2 separate regions of the Homo sapiens genome follow, and region 2 is linked to region 1. Evidence: fine-mapped expression QTL. Tissue or cell type: whole blood. Region 1 holds a variant in brackets; the other region holds the start of a gene. All regions are shown on one strand. Distances are between the middles of the regions.

Region 1 (8,107 bases):
AAGTGCTGGGATTACAGGCATGAGCCACCGCGCCCAGCCAACATTAGCATTCTTAGTATTTACCATTAGTATTTTTAATGTTTCTGTTTGACTCAAATCTTGAATTTTTTGGAAAATAGTAAAACGATGGACAGGTTAGGTGGATAGGCCATGCTAGTTGAAAACAGAGAAGATGGTAAAGTATAAAAGATAGCTGGGCATGGCGGCACGCACCTGTAGTCCCAGCTACTCAGGAGGCTGAGGTGGGAGAATCACTTCAGACCAGTAGTTTGAGACCAGCCTGGGCAACATAGTGAGACACAATCTCTAAGAAAAAAGAGTTTCCTCCTTAATCAGTTCAGATCACCTTTTGGACATAAGTCATTAGGTTATTTGTCTGGGTAGAGTAAAGCAGGCTGCCGGGAGTTGAAGTGTCACAGGGAGACTAAAGAAGAGGTACTAAAGAGGCTTTTCAGACGGCTTATCAAAGTTAAGGAGGAGGAGTTAGGCCTCTCAGTCTAGATAGCAAGGAAAGGGATGGACTGGTTTTTATGGACCAAGTTTTGTGAGGCCTAAAAAAGCTACTTGGGAGGCTGAGGCAGGAGAATTTGCCCTAAAAGGGCAGGAGGCCTAAAAAAGGAGTCATAGGGGATAAAGTTTAAAGATACAGGATTTTTTGTTGTTATTGTTTTACATTGTTTTATTTATTTTAATTTTTTGAGACAGGGTCTTGCTCTGTTGCCCAGGCTGGAGTGCAATGGTGCGATCTTGGCTCACTGCAACCTCCAACTCCCAGGTTCAAGTGATTCTCCTGCCTCAGCCTCCAGCGTAGCTGGGACTACAGACGCGCACCACCACGCCTGGCTAATTTTTGTATTTAGTAGAGACGGGGTTTTACCATGTTGGCCAGGCTGGTCTCGAACTCCTGACCTCATGATCCACCCACCTTGGCCTCCCAAAGTGCTGGGATTACAAGCATGAGCCACCGCTTCTGGCCATACACTTTATTTTTTAGAGAAGTTTTAGTTCACAGCAAAATTGAGCAAAAGGTATAGAGAGTTCCCGTATACTTCCTGTCCACACACGCACAATCTCTTTTACTATCAACATCCCACACCAGAGTGGTATATTTGTCACTATCAATGAACCATCATTACTACCCAAGGTCTATAGTTTACATTAGGGTTCACTCTTGGTATTATATATTCTATGGGTTTCAACAAATGTTTAGTGACATGTATCTACCATTACAGTATCATACAGAATAGTTTCACTGCCCTAAAAATCCTCTGTGCTCCACCTATTCATTCCTTTTCTCCCAATGCCTGGGAGCCACTATAGTCATCATGATGTACAATAGATCTCCTGGCCAGGTGCAGTGGCTCACGACCATACTCCCAGCACTTTGGGAGGCCAAGGCTGGTGGATCACTTGATGTCAGGAGTTTGAGACCAGCCTGGCCAACATGGTGAAACGCCGTCTCTAGTAAAAATACAAAACTTAGCTGGGCACAGTAGCTTGGGTTTGTGATCCCAGCAACTTGAGAGGCTGAGGCAGTAAGATCACTTGAGACCAGGAGTGTGAGGCTGCAGTGAGCTATGATTGTGCCACTGTACTCCAGTCTTGGCAACAGAACAAGACCCTGTCTCTAAAATAAATAAATAAATAAAAAATATAAAGTGGTTAAAATGGTGAATTTTACCTTAATTTACCTTAATTTAAAAACTACTCTTGTTTCTCTGTTATTTACAGAATAAAACTCTTTAACAGGCCAGGCGTGGTGGCTCATGTTTGTAATCCCAGCACTTTGGAAAGCTGAAGTAGGAGGATTAGTTGAGGCCAGGGGTTTGAGAGCAGCCTGGGTGACAGAATGAGACGCTATCTGTACTAAATAAATAAAAAAAAATACTGCACACTCTAGTTTTAGTGCCTTGGGAAGCTGAGACAGGAGGATCACTTGAGCCTAGGAGTTGGAGATTCCAGTGAGCTACGAGCACCACTGCACTCCAGCCTATCTCTGAAAAACAAAACAAAACAAAACAAAGCAAAGCAACTATTTAACTTGGCATACAAAGCCCTACCTGTGTCTCTAGTCTCATTATTCACATGTATCTCCTTTCAAAATATTCTAGACATATTGAAAGTAAAACTTCTTTTTTGTATCTCTGTGTCTTTACATATCCTGTTCCCTATGCCTAGAATTACCAGCATTCTACTGCACTTGGCAAATGTATACTCACTTTAGAAAATCCTGCTAAAATGTTAACCTAAGCTGGGTTTGGTAACACACCTATAATCTCAGCTACACAGGAGGCTGAGGCAGGAGGATCACTTGAGGCCAGGGGTTTAAGACCAGCTTGGCAAGGTAGTGAGACTTTCATCTCTGAAAAAAAAAATTAGCGGGCTGTGGTGGTGCACACCTGTAGTCACAGCTATTTGGGAGGCTGAGGTAGAGGACCTCTTGAGCCCAGGACTTGGAGGCTGCAGTGAACTATGATTTCACAATATGAAATCATATGATTTCATATGATATGATTTCATGTGATATGATTGTGCTACTATACTCCAGCCTGGGCAACAGAGTGAGATCCTGCCTCTAAAAACAAATAAATAATAAATAAATAAAATGTTACCCTCACATGAAGCTTTTCTTAGCTGTCTCTGGGACACTTAGTTGCTTTCTGATCTATATTCCCACAGCACTTTATTCATATTTCTCTTCTATCACTTAGCTGGATTGTTTTGTAACCTGTCAGTTAACATATCTATTTCCCATTTGATCAGTGACTTTTAAACTATTTTAGAGGTCATAGATGATGTACTATAAACTGTGGAATCTGTCTAGAAAAATACACATGTACGTATATATTTACACAGTTGTTCATCAGGTTCATGAACCTCCCAAAGGACATGCACAGACTATTCACCTGCATTAGAATCACTAGGAATGCTTGTTTATAAAGCAACCTGAGTTACTAAATCAGAATCTTTTGAGGGTAGGCCTCAAATATCTTGAACAATCCCACCAGGTAATTCTTTTATTCACTAGGCTTCAAGAACCACTGTCCTAGCTTAAGGACCCCCATGGTAGACAGTGAGTTCTTGAGGGCAGAGAGTGGATATTATTGATCTTTAGATCTTATCTATCCTAAAATCTTATTGATCTTTGGATCTT[G/A]TTGATCCTAAGATCTCACCATGTAATAGAGACCGGGCTAAGAAAGAGATCATTTTTAGCCATGGTGATCAGAAAAGGTAGCAACAAGAGATAAGAATCACCTGCCCCATGGAAAATAGGTTTTCAGTAGGTTGAGATGAAGTAGTGGAAAACACTGTAGGCACAGAGATTGGCAGCAGCAAAGGAGAGAGGCTAGAAAGTGCTATGTGTATCCATGGAACCAGTAGGATAGTAGGAAATAAGGCCAGAGAGGCGGCTTATTTAGTCATTAACTAACCATCTCCTCCCAACACACTATGTACTAGATACTATGCAAAACATTGAGAATAAATATATGAATAAGACATGGCTTTTGCTTTTCAGGAATAAGAGCAATCTAGTAGTAGGGGAAACAAACATAAAATGTGATAAAGTATAACAATGGAGAGTGAGATTTGAGACATCTTCACAGAGAAGGTAATTAAATGGAAACAGGGAATGAATAAGTATTTACAAAATGCACAAAGTTAGGAAGGATATTTCAGGAAGAAGAATTTAAACTACCCAGGTATGCTGGGGTGAAACAGCATGGCCCATTCTTATAACTGAAAATAGACTGGTATAATTGAACTATAGGTATAGAATAAAGAATTGGATAGAAGGTAAAGTTGGATAGGTAGGCAGTGGTCAGAGCACAGAAGAGCCTTGCATGCCAAACTATGTGAATAACTGGTAGCAGTTGAGGAGCTTTAAAGGGGAGAGTAAACTGTGTTTTAGATGGATGGTTACAGTATAAAGAAGACTGGGCAGGGGAAAGGCCAGAGGTAGGGAGACTAGAAGGACATTGGTATTCTCAAGGGAGAAATGAGGGCCTGAACAAAAGAGAGCAGGTGATATATTCAGAGAGGTTTTGTTTTGTTTTGTTTTGTTTTATGGATTCTTGCTCTATCGCCCAGGCTGGAGTGCAATGGTGTGATCTCGGCTCACTGCAACCTCTGCCTTCTGGGTTCAAGTGATTCTCCTGCCTCAGCCTCCCGAGTAGCTGGGATTACAGGCACGTGCCACCATGCCCAGCTAATTTTTTTTTTATTTTTAGTAGAGACAGGGTTTCACCATTTTGGCCAGGCTGGTCTCAAACTCCTGACCAGAGGTGAGCCACCCACCTCAGCCTCCCAAAGTGCTGGGATTACAGGCGTGAGCCACTGTGCCCAGCCCAGATCCTTAAAGAAGGATCAATAGGCCTTTGGTGACTAAGTGAATATGGGGAGTGTGAGAGGAGTTAAGAAGGGATTGAAGCCATTAAATGGCATGAAAATAGGTTTAGGAGCCTAGGTCAATGGTGAGACCATTAACCAAGAATGAGACTACAGGCAATAACAAAAGTTTGGGGAAAAGTGACAGCGATATAATAATTTCTAACATTTACTGAGCACCTACTATGTAGCAGGCACTATACTAAATGTTTTATATGTACTTACTCATTCAATTCTCACAACAACCTTACATGAAGTAGGTATTAATATAAGCCCCATTTTCACAATAGTGTTTAAGGGATGAGCAGAGAATGAGGAGCCAGTGAAGGAGATTGAGATTATGTTCATTAAATAATCTGAATTTTGTTCTTGTTAATTTATGTATGCATCAGTTTGGGAAAGCACTTACTTGGGTTCTTTATGCCCAGAGCTATGCTAGGTACTTTGGGAGTGATCCATAGTTTGAGATACATTGTACTTTCAAGGTTACAATACTTTTTTTGAAAAGCATACTGAGGAGGTGGGACTTGGGTTGGTGGGCAAAATGGCAAAACCCCACAAAGGTCATAAACAGACATGTTTCAAAAGAAAACATACATGTGGCCAACAAAAATATGAAAAAAGCTCAACATCACTGATCATTACAGAAATGCAAGTCAAAACCACAATGAGATACCATCTCACATCAGGCTACTATTAAAAAGTCAAAAAATAACAGCTGCTGGCAAGGTTGTGGAGAAAAAGGAACACTTACATACTGCTGGTGGGAGTGTAAATTAGTTCAATCATTGTGGAAGATTGTGTGGCAATTCCTCAAAGACCTAAAAACAGAAATACCATTAGACCCAGCAATCTCTTTATTGGGTATATACCCAAAGGAATATAAACCATTCTGTTTTAAAGGCATACACATGTATGTTCATTGTGACCAAATCACAATAGCAAAGACATGAAATCAACCTAAATGCCCATCAATGGTAGACTGGATAAGGAAAATGTGGTATGTATACACCATGGAATACTATACAGCCACAAAAAAGAATGAGATCATGTCCTTTGTAGGAGCATGGATGGAGCTGTAGACCATTATTCTTAGCAAACTAATGCAGGAACAGAAAGCCAAATACCGCATGTTCTCACTTATAAGTGGGAGCTGAATGATGAGAACACATGGACTCATAGAGGGAAACAACACACACTGGGCTGGGTGCGGTGGCTCACGCCTGTAATCCCAGCACTTTGAGAGGCCGAGGCGGGTGGATCAGGAGGTCAGGAGATCGAGACCATCCTGGCTAACATGGTGAAACCCCGTCTCTACTAAAAATACAAAAAAAATTAGCCGGGCGTGGTGGCGGGTGCCTGTAGTCCCAGCTAGCTACTGGGGAGTCTGAGGCAGGAAAATAGTGTGAACCTGGGAGGTGGAGCTTGCAGTGAGCCGAGATTGCGCCACTGCACTCCAGCCTGGGCGACAGATCGAGACTCCATCTCAAAAACAAAAAACAAACAAAAACAAACAAACAAACAAAAAAACCACACACACTGAAGCCTATTGGAGGGTGGGAGGAGAGAGAGGATCAGGAAAAATAACTAATGGGTACTAGGCTTAATACCTGGGTGATAAAATAACCTGTACAACAAACCCCCATGACACAAGTTTATCTATATAACAAACCTGCACATGTACCCTGAACTTAAAATACAAGTTAAATAAAAACAAAACAAAAAATACAAAAATTAGCCAGGTGTGGTGGTGCATGCCTGTAGTCCCAACTACTTGGGAGGCTGAGATGGGAGGATCGATTGACCCCGGGAGTTCAAGGCTGCAGTGAGCCATGGTCACACCACTGTACTCCAGCCTGGGTGACAGAGCAAGACCCTCTCTCAGAAAAAAAAAAAAATACATGTAATTTGTCCTGCTTTCTCCCAAGCCCCTGGCAACCACCAATGTGCTTTCTGTCTTTGTGGATTTGTTTATTCTGGACATTTCATGTAAATGAAATCATCCAATATGTGGTTTTTGTGTCTGACTTCTTTGACTTAGCATGATATTTTCAAGGTTTATCCACATTTTGGCATGTATCATTACTTCAACCATTTTCTGGCTGAAAAATATTCCATTGTGTGGATACACTACATTTTGTTTTTCCAGTTATCCACTGATGGACGTTTGGGTTGTTTTTACCTTTTCACTACTGTGAATAGTGCTTCTATGAACATATGTTTTCAAGGTTTTGTTTGAATATTTGTTTTGAATCTCTTGGGCATATACCTAGGAGTGGAATTGCTGGGTCATATGGTAATTCTATATTTAACATTTTGGGAAACCACCAACTTTAGTTTCCTTTAATCTGGAACATATTCCTTAGCCTTTCTTTGTCATTCATGGCATTAATATTTTTGAAGAACATAGGTCAGTTTTTTTAGAATGTCCCTCATTTTGGGTTTGTCTGATGTTTCCATGCAATTTAATTCAAGTTAAGCATTTTCAGTAGGAATAGTACAGAAGTAATTTGTGTCCTTCTCAGTGCATAATATCAGGAGGCACATGATATTTATTTGTGCCATTACTGGTGATATTAATGTTGATCACCAGTTGGTTAAAAAGATCTGCCAGTTTTCTACATTCTCAAGGTACTATTCTTCCCTTTGCAACTAATAAATATCTTTGAGGAAGATATTTTGAGAATATCTTGTTTCTCATCAAACTTTCACCCACTAGTTCTAGCATTCATTGATGATTCTTGCCTAAAACAAGTATTACTATGCTGTTTGTAAAATATTGCACAATAAGGTATTTTTCTTTGCAGTATCTGACCTTTATTTTGTGCTTGGATTGAGAATGTTGTGACTAAATTTACCTTTTGGAGAAGATACACATCAATCAGCAGCTAACTATATGCTAGTCTAAGTGACACATAGGCACTTAGAGAGAAACAAAGATATGAACACGTAACAATTAGTGTAGGGGGTAGCAGATACATAATTTATCTCCTAAGTTCTTTTTTCCCTGAGTTCATTGGCATTAATGTCACATCACTGTTGTATCGAATTCATTTGGAAATTACTCATTAATATATTTTTACCTTAATAAATCCTTAATTGAAACACTCAATATTTTTGCACAGTAAGTTTTTCATGATATATCACACCTACCACACATAGCACATCACCCAGTTGGACGTGAGAGCACATGAATTGTCGGTAATTTTAATGAAAATTCTGAATCCCACTGCACAGTGCTGTATCCCATTAATAGTGTGTAGACTGTTGGTTGAGAGAGAGATTCAGAGCACTAAGGAGATAGTGGTGTCAAAGCTAAGGGAGGTGAAAGTTCTAAGGTAGAAAAAGATGAATAGGATCAAATGCTGCAGAGGTCAACTAGTTATTTCATTATACTTGAAAACGCTCATGAAATTTGGCTTTTAAGCACAATTGGTGACCTTCTTGAGCAGTATAATTGGAATGGTATGGTTCAGAAACCAGTTTATAGTGGCTGGAAGAGTAAGGCAAGCACAACCATAAAGAAAATTATTGATAACCTTGAAAAAATTGTAAGTAGTAAAAAATACCAAAACGCCATAAGCAAAGTGAAAAAAGCCAAAATCATGAAAAATACTTTTGGTTTATTTTCAGATTTCAAAATTGTAGATAAGGGATTGAAGACATGTACAACCTTCTTGGAAAGCAGTTGGGCATATACAGTTAGGTGTTGGTTAGTGAT
Region 2 (8,107 bases), 85 kb before region 1:
ACATCCCCCATCAAAGCCCTCCCAGAGCACCAAGCTCACAGCACATATTCTATACCTACTCAAGCTCACAGTACATAATCAATATTTGTACCTGATTGGTGGGTTGCCCCTGGGTTGACAATGGTGAGGCTCCCCTTGAGGCTCTGCCAGCTCTTCAGTGCCTTGGGTATTGGAAGCTGTATGTTTTCCCTTCCTCCCTCACTGGTGACATTCTACTAGGGAAACGATGCTTTCCAGTGGCCCAGGGAGCTGAGATTGGCAGCTTCTTCAGCCCCCAGTGCAGCTTATATTTACTGATTGCCGCGGGGCAGGCTAGTTACACAAGGGGTTTGGCCCTCCCCTGGCCACCCCCCTTCCCGAAACCTGCCTTCTTTTCCCTACCTCCTTCCCAGTGCCTTTCCCCCATTTCTCAGGAATTTGTGCATAAACTCTTCAACCTTGGGGGCATTTGACCTCCCACTTGGAGGTCTTTAGTTTAGAAATTCAGGAGGAGCCCAGAAGTGCTTAGAGCAACTAGGAGGCTGAGTACATGGGACGGTCAGAAACTACTTGTTTCTCTGACTGGTGCTCTTAAGATAAGGAGCACCTTTGCCTGGGGAATGATGCTTCTTGTTCCAGGGTTCTTTAGCCAAAGAACTCCTTGTGTTCCTGGGACCCTGAGGTAATGGCATTTCAACTGTGCTGATGTTCCTTCAAGGAGTGGCACTTGTCCATCCGGCCTCACCTCATAGTAACTAAGGACCACAATGACCATGACCTGGCACTATGATTTCTCCTCTTTTTATCCTCTAATTCTGGATCTACTTGAGAAGATCCATTCCTTTCCCTACTACTTAATAGCCACAAGGCCCGTTTGTCTCCTCTTCTTTAGGCCTTGGAACTAGCAAGTGGTACACAGACTCTTAATTGGAGAGGTCAGTTTCCCAAAAGCCCATAACTCTTACATGTTGGAGGGCAGGGTGGTGGGGGTGACTGCTAATTGCTCCCTAAGCCACCTAATCTAAACTTTCTTGTTCTAAGTGAGTGCCGCCCCCTGGTGGGGTGGGAGTAACCTTGGCATATCATCAGGGAGGCCAGTTCAGGCATGAGACTTCCCCTCAGAGAGGGGTGGGGGGGCCTTGAAGTCCCAGGCTCAGCCTGATTTGACTTTGCCCTCATTCCAATTAGAGCAAGCCAGGCTCTTTTTAGAGAATATGATTTATAGTTAGACCTGAGTTCAAGTCCTCACCCTGCTGTTATTAGGTGAATTTCCTAACCTTTTGGTACCTAGTTTCCTAATGTGTAAAATGTGGAATCTCAGAATTGCTGTAAAGATTAATAAAATAAAAACTTTAAAAACTACTTTGTAAACTCTAAAGCCCCACAGAAGTGTAGATTATAAGGACGGACTATACTCCCACAATATAACTAACAACTTGTTATTTCCTCTACCCTGGAAAATGAACCTAAGGGAAAAGAAAAACAGCTGTGTAGGCTGGGTCCAAGGAGGGGAGCTTTTTATGAGCTGAGACTGTGGCGTGGCAGTCTACCCAGAAATAGTGCCAAGGGTCTCAGTCAGCTGTCCTATCTTCTGTTCTGCCCAGCCCCTAGGGATAGCACAGATCTGATCCCTCAGTCTCCTATACCTAGGGGAAGTTCCTCTGCTCATCCAACCTTCTGTACTTGGTTATATGCTGACCTCACCACCTAGAGAGGTACAAGCCAGCAATAGGGCTTGAGGCTCCCCAATTTTGTGATTACAGCCCCATATTTTCTCAGGACAAGTTTTTCAGAGTATCCTTTGAGATATTCTCTCACAGTTTCTTCACAGAAGGCCAAGAGAACTCCCAACTTTGTGCTCTAAAGTCAGAGCCCTACCTCCTTCTTCATGACTAATATTCCTTAACAGTAAAGGATGACTTCCCCCCAAAACTTGGATAGCCCCTTACAAGGGAGAGTTTCTTGGCAGCACAGGGTAAGCTGAGCCAAGTGGCAGCTCACAGCCCTTTTTCTTCTTAGTGCATGAGATCAGCTACCTTTCCCCATGAATATTATTGTTTTTACCCTTTGCCACTGCACTCCCTCCTCCTGGGTAGAGCAGTGCTAGAACAGTACCACTACACTGAGGTACTGGGAGGCAAGCAGGGAATCCAAGTAATCCCACAGGAATGGGAGAAAAGGTGTTGGGGTGGGAGGTGGGGGAGGAGGGAAGGGTAGGTTCATGTGGGGAATCCACACAGTTCCTGCTGTACATAGGATAAAGACTTCTCTGTGGGAATAAGTGTTTGGGGCAGCCCAAGCCAAAGTGCTGCGAATATTGAGCAGTGAGCAGAGAATTCAATTTTCTCCAGGGCAGGGACAGTGTCTTATTCATCTGTGATCCTTCAGCATCAAGCACCGAGTGTGGCATATACTATGTACTAAGTAAATGTTTGTCTAACTGGAGATTGAAGGTGGATCTCTGGGCTTCCCAAAGGGGGTGGGGGTGGGAGGTAGTAAAAGGGGCCCCAGAGTAGAAGTAAGGGAGGCTAGGGGGTCCAGGGGGTAGATGGTGTTGGGAAGAAGGTAAGAGGGTCATAATTACCTTCCATCCTGCTGAGCTGTTGCTGTCACCCTTGTCCTTGAAGTAGGGTACAGTACGGACCATCCACTCGTAGATCTGGGCAAGTGTCAGTCGCTTCTCCGGGGCGCTTTCAATGGCCTGGCTGATGAGTTCTGCATATGACTGATTTCCCCAGGCATTCCGGCGGGAGCCTCCCTTCCGAGGACCTGTTACAGCCCCCAGGATTCCGGGCTGGGGGCCCCCGGCCGGCTCTGGGAGCCGAGAGGGCAACAGGATCGGCTCTGAGCGCCCCTCCGTGTGTACCTTTTCCCCCAGATCTGGCTCCACCTCGGGCGGCTCGGACGGCTGGTTAGCGATCTCTGGTCGGGGAAGGGGCCAGGTGCAGGAGCGGGGACGGCTCTGGGGTTCGAAGTCGGGATCTAGGTCTATGATCGCGGCAGCCTCTGTGGCTGAATTCTCATTCCCCGGATCCATACGTGGAGTTGGACCTCCCCGGCTCAGCGTTCAGTGAAGCCTGCCACAGTCCCTCACGATGCCTCCCCTCAGGGGGGAAGCATCGAGGGCCAGGAGGCACATTCCTGCCAGTCTTCAGAAAGTCGCGAACTTCCCCCTAGTCCCAGGACGCTAGTCCCTAAGCTGTCCCTTCACACAGTTCTCCGATCCCCTTCCCGACTACAGCCTGTAGCCTCAAAGCTCTTTCTGAGATGCCACCTGTAACCTCTGCCGAGCGAAGACACTTTTTCTGCAACCTCTCACTCAGCTTCCTGCTCTTTTAAACCTGAGGCACTGTATCCCCTCATATATTGCGCTCCCATCACCGAACGTCTCCTTAGCCGCAGTTCCCTCCCCCTTTTAAGTTGCTGCCCCCCGGACACTCCTCCCAAATTTCCTCCACCCGGATTGCTGCCCTCCCCCACGCCCCGCTCCCCCGCGTCACTTGCCCCTCCCCTGACTCCCCCTTCCCCCGCCTCTTCCCTTCTCGCCACTCTTACTAGGGTCCGGGTCCCCGCGGCTGCGGCCTCCCTTATTCCCGCACCGATTCCCCTATCAACCCCCCCCACCCCCCGCCCCCCGGGTTTCCCTTTTGTTTTGCTCCAAGCAGCAGCCCCCTCCTGACGTCTCTGTTTACCACTCGCCGGGGCAGCCATCTGCGCACGCGCCTCGAAAGCCAGTCGGGAAACCGAGTTCTGCAGTCGTGCCACCCTGGTCACTCTTGAGGACTACATCTCCCGTCCTGCTTCGCGGCCAGGAGCCCGATACGGCGGCAGGAGAGCGGCGTGGCAGGATATAACGAGGTGGAACTTTAATTATTAGAAGTCGTCGCGGACTCTTTCTTTTCTTAAGAATCGTTTTTCGCCCTTTCCCCCTTTCCATTGTCTCCCTTGTGATTCAGAGTCGTGTAGGTGACCAGATTGAGAGGTGCTAGCCCTTTCCCTCCTTCATTTAGGAGACGGCAAAAGGGAAAAAATTATTCTCTTAAAGATGCAGGAGACCAAGAAGCAAGAAGCAAGGAACTGACTAGAAAATAGGATGTATGCACGTTGGAGAGTTGGGTGGGGGGCTTGTGTAACATAAACAAATGGTTAGCCCACGGTGGTGTTCCTCCTCACCCCCTTCCTCCTCCCTCCACCCGCCTTCATCCCCCCATATGCAGTTCCCACTGACAGTGAGGTCTCACTTACCAATCAGTTTCCTCCACTGGCTCTTCTGGCTTTCCCTTCAACACCGATATTCTCCAGGTTCACATCTCCAACGGCTTCACTTCTCATTCAACAGGTCCAAACTCATTATCTGTTCCTGCACCCGCACCCCTATCCTCTGGCTACCCTTATCTCTGAATTTGACTTATGGTAGTCCTGATCTACCCAGTCTCCCAAGCTCCAAGCAGCAGCTTAGAGGTAATTACCCATTACTTCTTCATCTCCGTAACTTTCTACATCCAAATCCCAGTTCAAGACCTATTTATAACTGCATTTAAATTGTAGGATCAGCCGGGTGCAGTGGCTGACGCCTGTAATATCAGCACTTTGGGAGGTCGAGGCAGGCGGATCACTTGAGGTCAGGAGTTTGAGACCAGCCTGGCCAACATGGTGAAACCCATCTCTGCTAAAAATAGAAAAATTAGCCTGGTGTGGGGCACGCACCTGTAGTCCCAGCTACTTGGGAGGCTGAGGTGGGAGAGTCGCTTGAACCCAAGAGGTGGAGGTTGCAGTGAGCCAAGATCATGCCACTGTGCTCCAGCCTGGGTGACAGAATAACACCCTGTCAAAAAAAAAAAAAGGTGCAGTATCATCTTAATTGGATCTCCTTCCATCAGTCTTTACCTCACTACAGTTTATATTCAGAGCTGCCAGCAAGGTTACCGTTCTAAGAAACATGTCTGGTAATTATGGCTAAAATTTATGGAGCCCTTATTATGTGCCAGTCTCTGTGCAAATTGCTTTACGAACATTAGTTCATTTACTCCTCAATCATTTACTCCTCAATTCAACCCCATGAGGTAGGTACCACTATTATCCGCATTTTATAGATGAAGACACTAACAATGCTCAGAGATTGACTTGCCCAACGAGGCAGAACTGGGATTATATAACTTACATGCGATCGTATAATTTCTTTCTTTCTTTCCTTCCTTCTTTCTTTCTTTCCTTCCTTCCTTCCTTCTTTCTTTCTCCTTCCTTCTTTCTTTCTTTCTTTCTTTCTTTCTTTCTTTCTTTCTTTTTCTTTCTTTCTTTCTTTCTTTCTTTCTCCTTCCTTCCTTCCTTCCTTCCTTCCTTCCTTCCTTCCTTCCTTCCTTCCTTCTTTCCTTCTTTTTTGAGACAGGGTCTTGCTCTGTCACTCAGACTGGAATGCAGTGGTGTGATCTTGGCTCACTGCAGCCTTGACCTGCTGCACTCAAGCAATCCTCCCATCTCAGCCTCGGGAGTAGCTGGGACTACAGGCATGTGCCACCACGCCCAGCTAATTTTTGTATTTTCTGTAGAGACGGGGTTTCACCGTGTTGCTCAGGCTGGTCTGGAACTCCTGACTTCAAGTGATCCACCTGCCTTGGCCTCTGAAAGTGCTGGGATTACAGGCATGAGCCACCGCACCTGGCTATAAATTTTGTTTTTTTGATCATGTAATTTCCCTGGTTAAATCTTCCTCTGATTTTCCCCATTGCCTGTGTGATAAAGTTCAAATTCCCTCGCAAGGCATGCCAGGCTCCTCAGATTCAGGCCACTTCACACCTTTCCTGCACACTAAGTTACAAGCAGAGTTTCACACTATTTCCTGGAAATACCATGCCCTTTTATACCTTTCTCTCTGCATCCTGGGATATCATCCCTCTTGTCATTCCTCTCCACGTCTCTTATTTTGGAAAACTCCTATTCAGCCTTCCCTGTCTCCCTTAGGTGTGATTAGTTCTCCTTTTTTTTCTGCATTCCTAAGCACTTTGTGCAGTCTTATGTTATATAGCACAAACTATATTGTATTGTAATTATTTGTTTACTTATCTGTCTCTCCCAGTAAACTGTGAGCTCTTATTTATTTTTTTTTTAGACAGGGTCTCGCTCTGTCACCCAGGCTGGAGTGCAATGGCACAATCTCGGCTCACTGCAACCTCCACCTCCCAGGTTCAGACGATTCTCCTGCCTCAGCCTCCCGAGTAGCTGGGATTACAGGTGCCTGCCACCATTCCCAGCTAATATTTGTATTTTTAGTAGAGATGGGTTTTCACCATGTTGGTCAGGCTGGTCTTGAACTCCTGGCCTCTGGTGATCCACCCGCCTTGGCCTCCCAAAGTGTTGGGATTACAGGTGTGAGCCACAGTGCTCGGCAAATATCATTTATTAAATGAAGTATCACAAATAGCATTTGGACATTTAACAACTTTTAAATAAACATGTCCTATGCATTTTTTGCCTGGCCCTGTTCCAACTGTTAGACAGCAACCTCTGAGGGGCAGGGACTGTAATTTGGCTTGTCTGCCACTTGCAGTGTTTCTATTGTGTTCTGTGATGATGCGGCCTTCCTCCTGTGCAGAAGGATATCCATGCAACCCAGGATTTTTCAGCGGTGGCAGCACATTGGGCCTCCAAAGTGATATTAGCCTGATCATGGTAAAATAGCCATATTGGTTCTCCATATTCCTGCCTTCTTCTGCTCCAACATGCATTTGTCCTCCACCTGTTACCTAGGTGTATACAAAAGGCCATATATTCCCATCTGAGGTCCAGACTAGAGAGATGAGACATAGTTGCTCACGATGCCTGCAAACATTCCCTGCACATGCCCCTTTTTCCTTCACCCCAGCTAAGGGTGCCTGATAAGTGCTGCATGAGTGGTGAATTTGGTAGAGGAGAGAGCCTTGTGGCACTAGGTCACAAGGAGATCTCTTCTAACTGAAACAGCTATGATGGCAGATCATGCAGAGTTACTGAGACAGGGAAATGGCAGGGTGGGGCAGGCACCTGTCCTGGCCTGAGTTAAATCTTGCATTGTCTCTCTTTGTGCATTTGTTTGAAAAGGTCCACCTCTCCACCAACTCATGTCCATCACCTCCTTAAATTTACAATTCAAAGCTCAAAACTAACCTGCCCTTGGAAACTTTTCCTGACTAGTCCAACCTGACAGGCCACTTCTCCAATTTGCATCTCCTGAACCTCTATGAACTCAGTTTGTATTTTTATTTTTTATTTATTTTTTTTTTGAGACAGAGTCTTGCTTTGTCGCCCAGGCTGGAGTGCAGTGGTGCGATATCGGCTCACTGCACCTTCCACTTCTTGGGTTCAAGCAATTCTCCTGCTTCAGCCTCCCTGGTAGCTGGGATTACAGGCGAGCGCCACCACACCTGGCTGATTTTTGTATTTTTAGTAGAGACGGAGTTTCACCATGTTGGCCAGGCTGGTCTTGAACTCCTGACCTCAGTGATCCACCCGCCTCGGCCTCCCAAAGTGCTGGGATTACAGGCGTGAGCCACTGCGCCCGGCTTGTATTCTTTAACTTTGTGCTTCTGCTTACATGGCTTTTCATTTCATGAGGGCATATTGTCTCCCCAACTAGATTATAAACTCTACTATCAATCAACGGATGTTTGTGGAGCCTTTACTGTTGAGAGTACACCTTGAAATCCTGGACAGATAAAAATGACCACACGTCATAGGACCAGATAATTTAGGAGGACGAGCTAAAGGATTGGTGGGATGGTAAAAACACCATCATGACTTTAAAGCATGCAGATAGAGAGGTCAGGGTTGTTCAGCTGTGAAAATGTTGCAAAATAACATTAGTCAAGAGACAGAATTAGCAAGATGGTCTTGGAAAATAAAAAGACATTGGGCAGGAAACAAGATTAATAGGAGGCTCCCAGAAACCACCGTAGCTGTAAGCTACAAACAGATAATGGCAGGATTTAGAAGACACAGGCTTTTCTCCCAGTTTGAAACCCCAGAGTTTATTTTCTCAAATGTCCCCCCATTCACAATTTGTTTTTTTTCCTCTTCAAGGTCATAGGGGTTTGGCTCTCTTGACTTTCACTGCCACCGCCCACTCTTCTACTTGGGTGCCACGCCCCTACCACAG

What was found. PIP is the estimated chance that this variant, and not a neighbour inherited with it, causes the effect.
Region 2: FOXO4 starts here. The variant in region 1 is fine-mapped to the expression of FOXO4 in whole blood (TOPMed, PIP 0.97).

What each region holds. Positions count from the first base shown.
Region 1 is chrX:71,006,676-71,014,782 of GRCh38, reverse strand. No RefSeq gene overlaps it. Among named protein-coding and RNA genes, the nearest start is that of SNX12, 58 kb to the left of the region's middle. The variant G/A (reference allele first, on the strand shown) is at 3,155.
Region 2 is chrX:71,091,438-71,099,544 of GRCh38, reverse strand. It overlaps FOXO4 (forkhead box O4), which reads right to left and starts at 3,694. Exons shown (of 3, transcript NM_005938.4): 1 at 2,564-3,694. The coding sequence starts at 3,016. RefSeq lists an enhancer at 932-1,226.